Linked DNA regions of Homo sapiens: region 1 is linked to region 2. The links come from fine-mapping of genetic effects on gene expression. A gene starts in region 2. The other region holds a variant in brackets. All regions are shown on one strand. Distances are from middle to middle. Region 1 has its middle 3.5 kb from the start of BTNL3. Region 2 holds the start of BTNL8 (butyrophilin like 8).

Region 1 (4,405 bases), 86 kb before region 2:
CCTTCACTTTTCTTTTTTTTTCCCCCACAATCTGTAAACATGTAATCCTACCTTAAGTACAAAGCCATTACAAATGCAAAAAAATCAAAGATTACAAGTCAATTTCTTTCTGCCTACAGTAATAGCTGAAATGTAAAGAGATCAACTTCAGAAAAAAATACATTGAAAAACATACCACTTTAATAAGACAAAACTGCAAATTAGATGAATAGAAATTAGGTAGATCCATTTATTTTTTAAATACAAGTATAATTTTGGAAGAGCTATTTGACAAATTCAGCATTAACTGCCAACTCTGTAGACATGTTTAACAACAACAACAAAACAAGACATTTACTCTTGGCCCTTTTAGTACAGGTGAAGTGTCCTATTGCATCACAAGTATTAGTAATGAAGTAACAGATCCAAGGGCATAATATTAAAGATGTTTTTTTCCAATTGCGATTTAGTTGAAAAATAACATAATACGAACATATATGAATGGCTATCAAGACCACCAGTGATCTGCAGAATACCTAGAGGCCTACGTACTTAGAAGGCTGAAACTAGTAAAACAGTATTAAAATCAGTGTTTTTATTCTAAGATGAGCAATGACAGAGTGAGATTTCTGATTCCAATTTTATAAGGTGCGGTGGGGAGTTGAGAGGAGATATTGGGGAAGACTGGCACTTTGTGCTGAGTTAGAGATGGGAATGTGGCTCAAATTAGTTAATATTCAGAGTAGGATATTGTTTTAGAAAATTTTAAATGCATTCTAAATTGTGGCATATTGAAAAGGATATTAAGGAACAATGATTCATTAGCCCTAAACACAATTTAGTGAGTGCCATCAGTAGGCTTAAGAAATAAGCAGGGATGGCAGATGATGAGGCAAAATGAGGTGAAATAGAAAATGGAAAGTGGAAAATATGCTTGAACATTGGAGAATGTGAAAAGACCACTAAAGAAACTGCTTTGGTGATCACTCAGAAGTGCTCTTCCCATTGGCTACCCGCTCCTGATCACCTCTTCCCATTGGCTACCCGCTCCTGATCACCTCTTCCCATTGGCTACCTGCTCCTGATCACCTCTTCCCATTGGCTACCCACTCCTGATCACCCAAACACCAATTTTAGAGCACAGCAGCAGTAACTCCCTTTATCTGCAATTTCACTTTCCATAGTTTGTTACCCGAGGCAACCTTGGTCCAAACATATTATGTGGAAAATTCCAGAAATAAACCATGTTTTAAATCACAAGCTGGTTGTGCACTGTGGCTCATTCCTGTAATCTCAGCACCTTGGGAGGCCGAGGAGGGCGGATCACCTAAGGTCATGAGCTCGAGACCAGCCTGGCCAACATGGTGAGACCCTGTCTCTACTAAAAATACAAAAATTAGCTGGGCATGTTGGCGGGCGCCTGCATTCCCAGCTACCTGGGAGGCTGAGGCAGAAGAACTGCTTGAACCCAGGAGGCAGAGGCTGCAGTGAGCCAAGGTCGCACCACTACTCCAGGCTGGGTGATAGAGCGAGACTCCCTCTCAAAAAAAAAAAATAATAATAAAATAAATCACAAGCCATGTAGTGATGAAATCTCATGATCCTCCTCCTCTGTCCTGCCTGGGATGTGAATCATCCCTTTGTCCTGCTTATCCACACAGGTTGTATACAACCTGCCCCTTAGTCGCTTAGTAGCCGCCTTGGTTGTCAGATTGAAAAAACATAGACTATACAGGGTTTAGTACTATCTGAGGTTTCAGGCATCTACTAGGGGTCTCGGACTGTATCTCTTGCAGATAAGGGGAGACTACTGTATTACATTTCAGCTTCCATAAAACTTTACTAATTCGGATTAAGAACACAAGCCTGATTTTGTAAAAAGCATCCATAAATATTCAGAGGTATAGTTTTGCTTCATCAAGTAAAAAGAGCAACTAATTCCAACTGTTGAAGTAGTAACAAGTAAAGGCTTCACCAGGCTTGCCTTGATGAATAGTTAAGACACATTTTCAGGTCAACAGCACAAGATTATTGAATAACTTTTATGCTACAAACGCTGCTTCCACTCATCGAAACAACCCAACAATCCTTACTATTCCAATTTGCTGAGAACCATGTCGGATGCTGCCTTCAAGAATGAAATGTTCCTCAAAACTGTTCTATCAAAGGCAGTAGCTATTGGACATAAAACAGGTGATTTATTTCAGACTTTAGTTAGTTTTCATGAAGTCTTCATCTCCAACTTCAGTTTATTCCAACATTAATTTATGATAGGACAGTTATTAAAATTAGCCATTTCTCAGACTATAGCTTTGAAATAATAAGAAAGGGACAATTGGGCTCACTAGTCAAAATCTTGATTCAAGTGATGATCCAATAGCTTACAAATGTCTTCAATAAACTGAGCTTTGGGGCAGGATGAAAAACAGAAAAATGTAAAACCTCTCTATCGCAATCACCAATAATGGAGGCTAGGCAATTACACCTACAAATCCTTAACGACAGACCTCTCCTAATGACAAACCCTGAGACTTG[A/G]GCACTGTGACTTACAGAAGGCCGGTTGGCTTAATGAGGAAATTTACTTTTAATAAAAAGACAATCAGCAATATTTTATTTTGGGCACTTAGTGTTTCACAGATCCTCAATACGTTTTGAGGTAGGTCAAATATTAATAGTGTATTTTACAAACAAAACTCAAGCAGTTGTTTTGTTACTTGTCCCAAACCACAGGAGCAGTTCTATCGTGGTCAGGAATAACAGGGTCTCTCTGACCTTTCAGATTAATCTTTCATGTGTGAAGTTAAGCGTAATCACTTGCAAATATTCGTGAAAAAAACCCAGAAGACTAGATATAGAAATTCTACTTTGGGATATTTTAAACTTCTTAAATTGATCCTATAATGAGTATATACTTGCTCTCATTACAAATATCTATATCTCTGATCTTTACAATTACAAATGAGCACAGGAGTGACTATGTTGCTTTTCTGCCTTTCGGGGTGAGTAGAGCAGGAAGATAATCAGTAAGCTTTCCTCAGAGCACTAGGCAGCCTTTAACTGAAGGTGCTATGTTGGAGGCACCATTGACTATGATTTGGGATCATAGGAGAGCAGGTATACTAATGGAACCAGGATTCAGAAAAGATGCCTGGATCCAAAAAGAGGAGGCTCTCTGCAAGTCAAAGATGAAGAGAAAGATAGTAACATCTGAAGTTACTGATCCTGAGTATCATGGTACAGCATTACAACTACTTGTGAGAGGAGCTCCTACAAGAGCAGTAAGCTTGTCCCAATAAAGTCTGTTAAAGTTCTTGCTAACTAGGTAAGCCACAAGTAAAACTAAATTGTTATTTTATTAAAGTGACATCTATAGAAGCAAATATCTAAACATTTTTAATATGAGTAAGTTTTACCTGTCATGTGAATTACTCTCATTGTCACAAGCCCAATTCTATTAGCTTGTCATAATTCCTAAAATAATGTACCAAAATTCAGCTCATCTTGACATAGGTTCTTGAGCCAGTATTCTGTACTGTTTGATTATAAAGTTCCTTTTATTTAAACAATTGTAGAATATTGGTAATAATAAAGGATTAAGAATAGTTAGCTTGAGCCTAGGAGTAAGGTTGCAGTGAGCTATGATTGCACTACTGCCCTAGAGCTTAGGTGACAGAGAAAGACCCTATCTCAAGAAAAAAAGAGAGAGAGAGAGAGATTAACAACTGAGAAATTAGAAGGAAAACATCATTATTGTGTTATTTAAAAGAGTAAGGATATAGACACCTATGCTTTCGTATAGAACAAACAACCCAATACCATTTGAGTCGAAGAACAAAAGGGAAAAAGCAGGTGGCAGGGGGCATAGAATGCAGAGTATTGAAGCCTTTTACTCTAGTGTCTCCAAAGTTGAGTGTGGAAGTAAAAAGTTTCTACATTTAAAAAGTTTATATAAATTATATGAATTGCAACTTTCATAAAAATCAAAATGAAAGGTTCTGCATAGGACAAAAGATATTCCTAAGCAACATATCGTATTTGCACAAGGCCACTGAATGCCATGGATATTAGTAACAAATGAAAAGCTTAAGTCTATGACAGATTGAACTAAGATTTCAGTTTGGTATTCTATAAGCCCGAGATTGTAAACTACTCTTATTATACAAAAGCTATAATGACTTACAGAGTTTTGTGTAGGACCTCTTGTGCTTCTGCTTGGCACATTATCTACTTTTTAAGTATGTGAAATAAATATAGGCATTTGTGAGAGGTTGTGCAAAATTATTGTATTTACAAAAATGGCACAAAAGTGAATTCAACAGTCATTGCACATCTTCAACAACAAAAGGTATTCTGACTCTACAGAACTGAATAAGAATATTAGCTTCGACGGCAGCTGTTAAGCACTAGGGTCACATAAGTTACACCA
Region 2 (4,405 bases):
GTAGCAGATGTTGAGGCCCTGCTCCTCACCACCCAACCCTGAGTCCCCCTGCAGTGGGATGGGCATTTCCCTGCCTGCTGACAGCTCCGTCCCTGGAGCCTGGCCTCTGCCTCTCTGCTGAGGGCTTCCTGCCACCCTTGGAACCTACTTAGCCCTGGCACAAGGCAGCTCAGAAGGTTTGCGATTTTAGCAGTCCTGGGCGGCACATCTCACCCAGTGGGGAAAGGAGACAGTAGATGTTGGAATGACTCTGAGCCACCATCTATAAAGTTCCTCCAAAGGTCCCAGTGGGACTGGGTCCCAGTTGCCACCGCAGCAACGCTCATTAGCGCACCCTCTATGGCTTTCCCCCTACTGGCTTCACTCTCTCCACTCCCTCACTTTGTTTCCCAGAATCACCTGCTCAACGAATCACTGGCAGGAAGGCCCTTGTCTTAGGTCAGGTTTGGGGACCCAGCGTATGCCAGCTGGGCTGCTATGGATGCTGCCTTCAGGGCTGTGTGGGGCTCTTGAGGCAAGGAAACATTTTTCAGGGTACCTCCATTTCTCCGGCCAGCCCTTGCTGCTGTCACCTCTCTTGCCTATAACATCTCCTTTCACTCCTTCCACTTCCTTCCCTTGAAAATAAGAAAGGAACAAGACTGTTGCTGCAACATGCCATGCACCCGTGCAGCTGTGTGCACTCTACATGCACAAGCTCATGCAGTCCTCACCACAGCCCCAGCAGGAATGTGATCGTATCTCCATGTCATCATAAGCAAACCAACACCTAAGGAAGCTGTGAACAATAAAGCTCACAAGAAAATGAAATAAGAGTTTTTAAAAATAAAATGTTTCTGTCTCCAAGATCATTTCCAGGATGTCCTGCTGCCTCACCCGGAAACAGAAGGGAAACAAAGAAGCTCGTCAGAAAATAAATGAAAACAAACTGAAACGAGAGCGTCTCCTGTTAGTAACACATATGGGTTTTTGTTTTAAGGAAACATGCTCTATGTTTTGATTGCCCTTATTTCTGTTTTCTTAGCTTCATTTAGCAAAAAAGATATAGGTGGACAGGTGGCAGGATGAACCTTCACAGACAGAAAGTGAACACAGTCAATCGAATCTTCTGTGGCTGGGTACTGACCATCTAGCCACCAGCATTCTACCCCAACCTCAAGCTTCCTCTGTGAATTGTATTCAGTCACTCAACATCCTATATACTAGGTTCTGTGTTAACAGTAACTGGAAGGAGAAAGAAGAGTGGATTTCTTCCCAGAATATGCCAGGTTTCAGCTAATTTCTCACCTCAAGACCTGTACACCTTCCTCCACCCTCGTGTCTCATACCACAGACATTTCTAACTCAGCATGTCTTTAGCTGGATACATTGTCTTTTCCCCAAAAATCCTAACTGTGTCTCTTCCCAGATGGACATCCATGTCAGCAACCTTGGTGCTCCAATAACCCTGCCTACACCACTCAGCCCATCTGGGAGAAACACTGAATTTATTCACCTTAACACGTTAGGTGTGTCCCCGTCAACGATCACGGTGCGTCTTCAACACCCGTGTTTCCATTATTTGGGGGCTACTATAATTGTTTCCACAGCGCCTGATCCTTCCCCAGGCTGAGGCTAGGAGAAGCCAAAGGAATGGAAACGACAAAGATGCCTTCATTCCATTATGCTGCAACCATTGTAGCTAAAGAACTCAAACTGTTAGTTAGTAAGGAGGAAACAAAGATGAGTCTTACCTGATCCCAGCTTGAGGAGACTCAGAACCAAACTGAGCATGAGAGCCATGGATGTGTTCTGTGAATGGACCTCACGGCATGGAAACGGATGACAGGAGAGGTGACGGATGGATTAGAGAGAAGAGGAGAACTGGCCTAATGCTCAAGGTGCGGAAGCCACGGAGAGGCTCTGCGTGAGCGGAGGGCAAACTGCGCTGTTCTGAGAGTCTACTCCATCGAGACACAGCTGTCATGTACCAGAAGTGTAGGGACTCTAGACTTTGAACCACTGCATAAATGTCTATATCTTATCAAGGAAGCAAAGATAGAAATAGTGTGGATAAGATTGGAGGTGAACTTTGTCCTGGGCAAAACGATGCCCTGTGTGGGTGAAACAGGAATGTCAGATGCGGAAATACTTTTCACGTCCAATCTGGCAGGCAGGGCTGTATGGCCATGGGATCTAGTCCTGAAAAACCTCATGTTAGCACTGGATAGTTTGGTGTCCAAGTAAATAGGCCATGCTCCATTAGTAGTAGCCTACAGCAGGTGACTTGACATTTCCTGGCACAGTCTGAGGTCCTTTTGCTTACCCCTCCATTCTCTGAAGTTCAGGGCCAGGACTGTAATCATGAGGCCAGATAAAAATAACTTTCCAGAACAAAACAGATCCTTAGTGTTAAACATCTGATACATTGGGAAAGGTGCCTGGGCAGGTTCAGACATGAGGAAACTTATTTATTATATAAACTAAGTTCCAGGGCAGCCACAATGAGAGATTTGCAGTCTTTTTAAGCACACGGAAACTCACAAAGTCACCACTTAACTAGATCAGAATGAAAATTTCCACAGATAACCATCAAAATAAACATACTCTAATCATAATGCAATTAAAATTAAAAAGTAATTCAAAAACATAGGAAACTCTATACACTAAGAAATTCTTATGTAACAATTTAAAACAACTCACGAGACTAAATCACAATAAAAGTTAGCATCTAGAATAGGACAAAATGAAAACACTGCATTTAGTCTAAAATCTAGAACACTGACAACACCAAATGCTGGTGAGGATGCGGAGCAACAGGAATTCTCACTGATTGCTGACAGGAATGCAAGACGGTACGGTTGTTCTAGAAGACAGTTCAGCAATTTCCTGCAAAATTAAACATACTTTTATCACCTAATCCAGCAACTGCACTGCTTTTTATTCACCTAAATGACTTGAAAACATATGTCCACATGAAAAATTGCACATGAATGTTTATAGCAGCTTTATTCATAATTGCCAAAAATGTTTGCAACCAGATATCATTCAATAATGATACATAGAATGTATACACAAACTATGGTACATCTATACAATGGAATATTACTCTGTGATAAAAAAAAAAAGGAAATGAGTTGTTGAATGTTGTAAGCAAGAGAGTAGAATAGAAAATTATTGATCTCATGCTGTCTCAGAAATACAGATTTACCAAGGATATATAGACCAAAATACCTTTTTATGAAGCTGCTGAGAAGGCACAGTATCCTCTCCATTCCAGTGGCAGCTATGCCCCACCCATGGCCATTCGAAGCCTAGGCCTAGGCCCAGTGGAACGGTCATGACCCAGGCTTCTGAACCTACAGGCTGCTCTGGCCCCCAAGGACCAAACAGTCCAACCCAGCAAGGAAGCCAAGCCTGGCCTGGTGAAGCAGTTGTACCCTCTCAAGCATGAGCCAAGCACCTTGACCCCAGAGAAGCATGCGCAATAGAATGGCAACAATACCCCCTTGTGTGCACACTAACTGGGGGCCCCAGACTCAGCCCCAGGAAAGCAATGTCTGAGATGGTGGAGCAGCTGTGCTCCCTTGGCACATAAAGCGGCCTGGTGCCCCACCTCCAGAAAAGCTATGCCCAAGCCAGAACACTGGTCTTATTCCCTCAGCACACAAACCAGCCCTGCATCCCACCCGAGGGAAGCTGTACCTGAGCTGGTGGAGTAGTTGTGCTCTCTTGGTGCCTGAGCTCAGTGTAATCTACTTTGCTACCACCACTCCCACAAATTACTGCAGTACGGGCCACTGAGGCATCCACTTGTCACTGACATTGATTATAGCTGAGAAGCTTCACAGAGACTACGCTACTGTGCCAGCCAGAAGCAGAGCCGATACACCCTACTCAGCACCCGAGGACCTATCAACAAGTGAAAGTTTTTTCTTAGAAAAGCTACTTTATAAGTTAGGAGAGGCAAATGTTCTACCAGATGCACATATATCAACACAGGGACACAAGAAACATGAAAAAGCAAAGAAACATGACTCTCCCCAAAAAGGCTGAGGCAGGAAAATCACTTGAATCTGAGAGGTGGAGGTTGCAGTGAGCCGAGATCGTGCCACTGCACTCCAGCCTGGTTGACAGAGTGAGACTCCATCTCAAAATAATAATAATAATAATAATAATAATAATAATAATATAACATTTTTAAAAGTCAGCAAGATTTGAACTAGAAATACCATTTGACCCAGCCATCCCATTCCTGGGCACATACCCAAAGGATTATAAAACATGCTGCTATAAAGACACATGCACACGTATGTTTATTGCGACACTATTCACAATAGCAAAGACTTGGAACCAACCCAAATGTCCAACAATGATAGACTGGATTAAGAAAATGTGGCACATATACACCATGGAATACTATGAA

The links. PIP is the estimated chance that this variant, and not a neighbour inherited with it, causes the effect.
Region 1: its variant is the best candidate, but not a certain one, in a credible set for the expression of BTNL8 in spleen (GTEx, PIP 0.56).

Annotation. Positions count from the first base shown.
Region 1 is chr5:180,983,181-180,987,585 of GRCh38, reverse strand. It overlaps the pseudogene ARPP19P1. Among named protein-coding and RNA genes, the nearest start is that of BTNL3, 3.5 kb to the left of the region's middle. The variant A/G (reference allele first, on the strand shown) is at 2,515.
Region 2 is chr5:180,896,688-180,901,092 of GRCh38, reverse strand. It overlaps BTNL8 (butyrophilin like 8), which reads right to left and starts at 1,934. Exons shown (of 8, transcript NM_001040462.3): 1 at 1,734-1,934. The coding sequence starts at 1,782.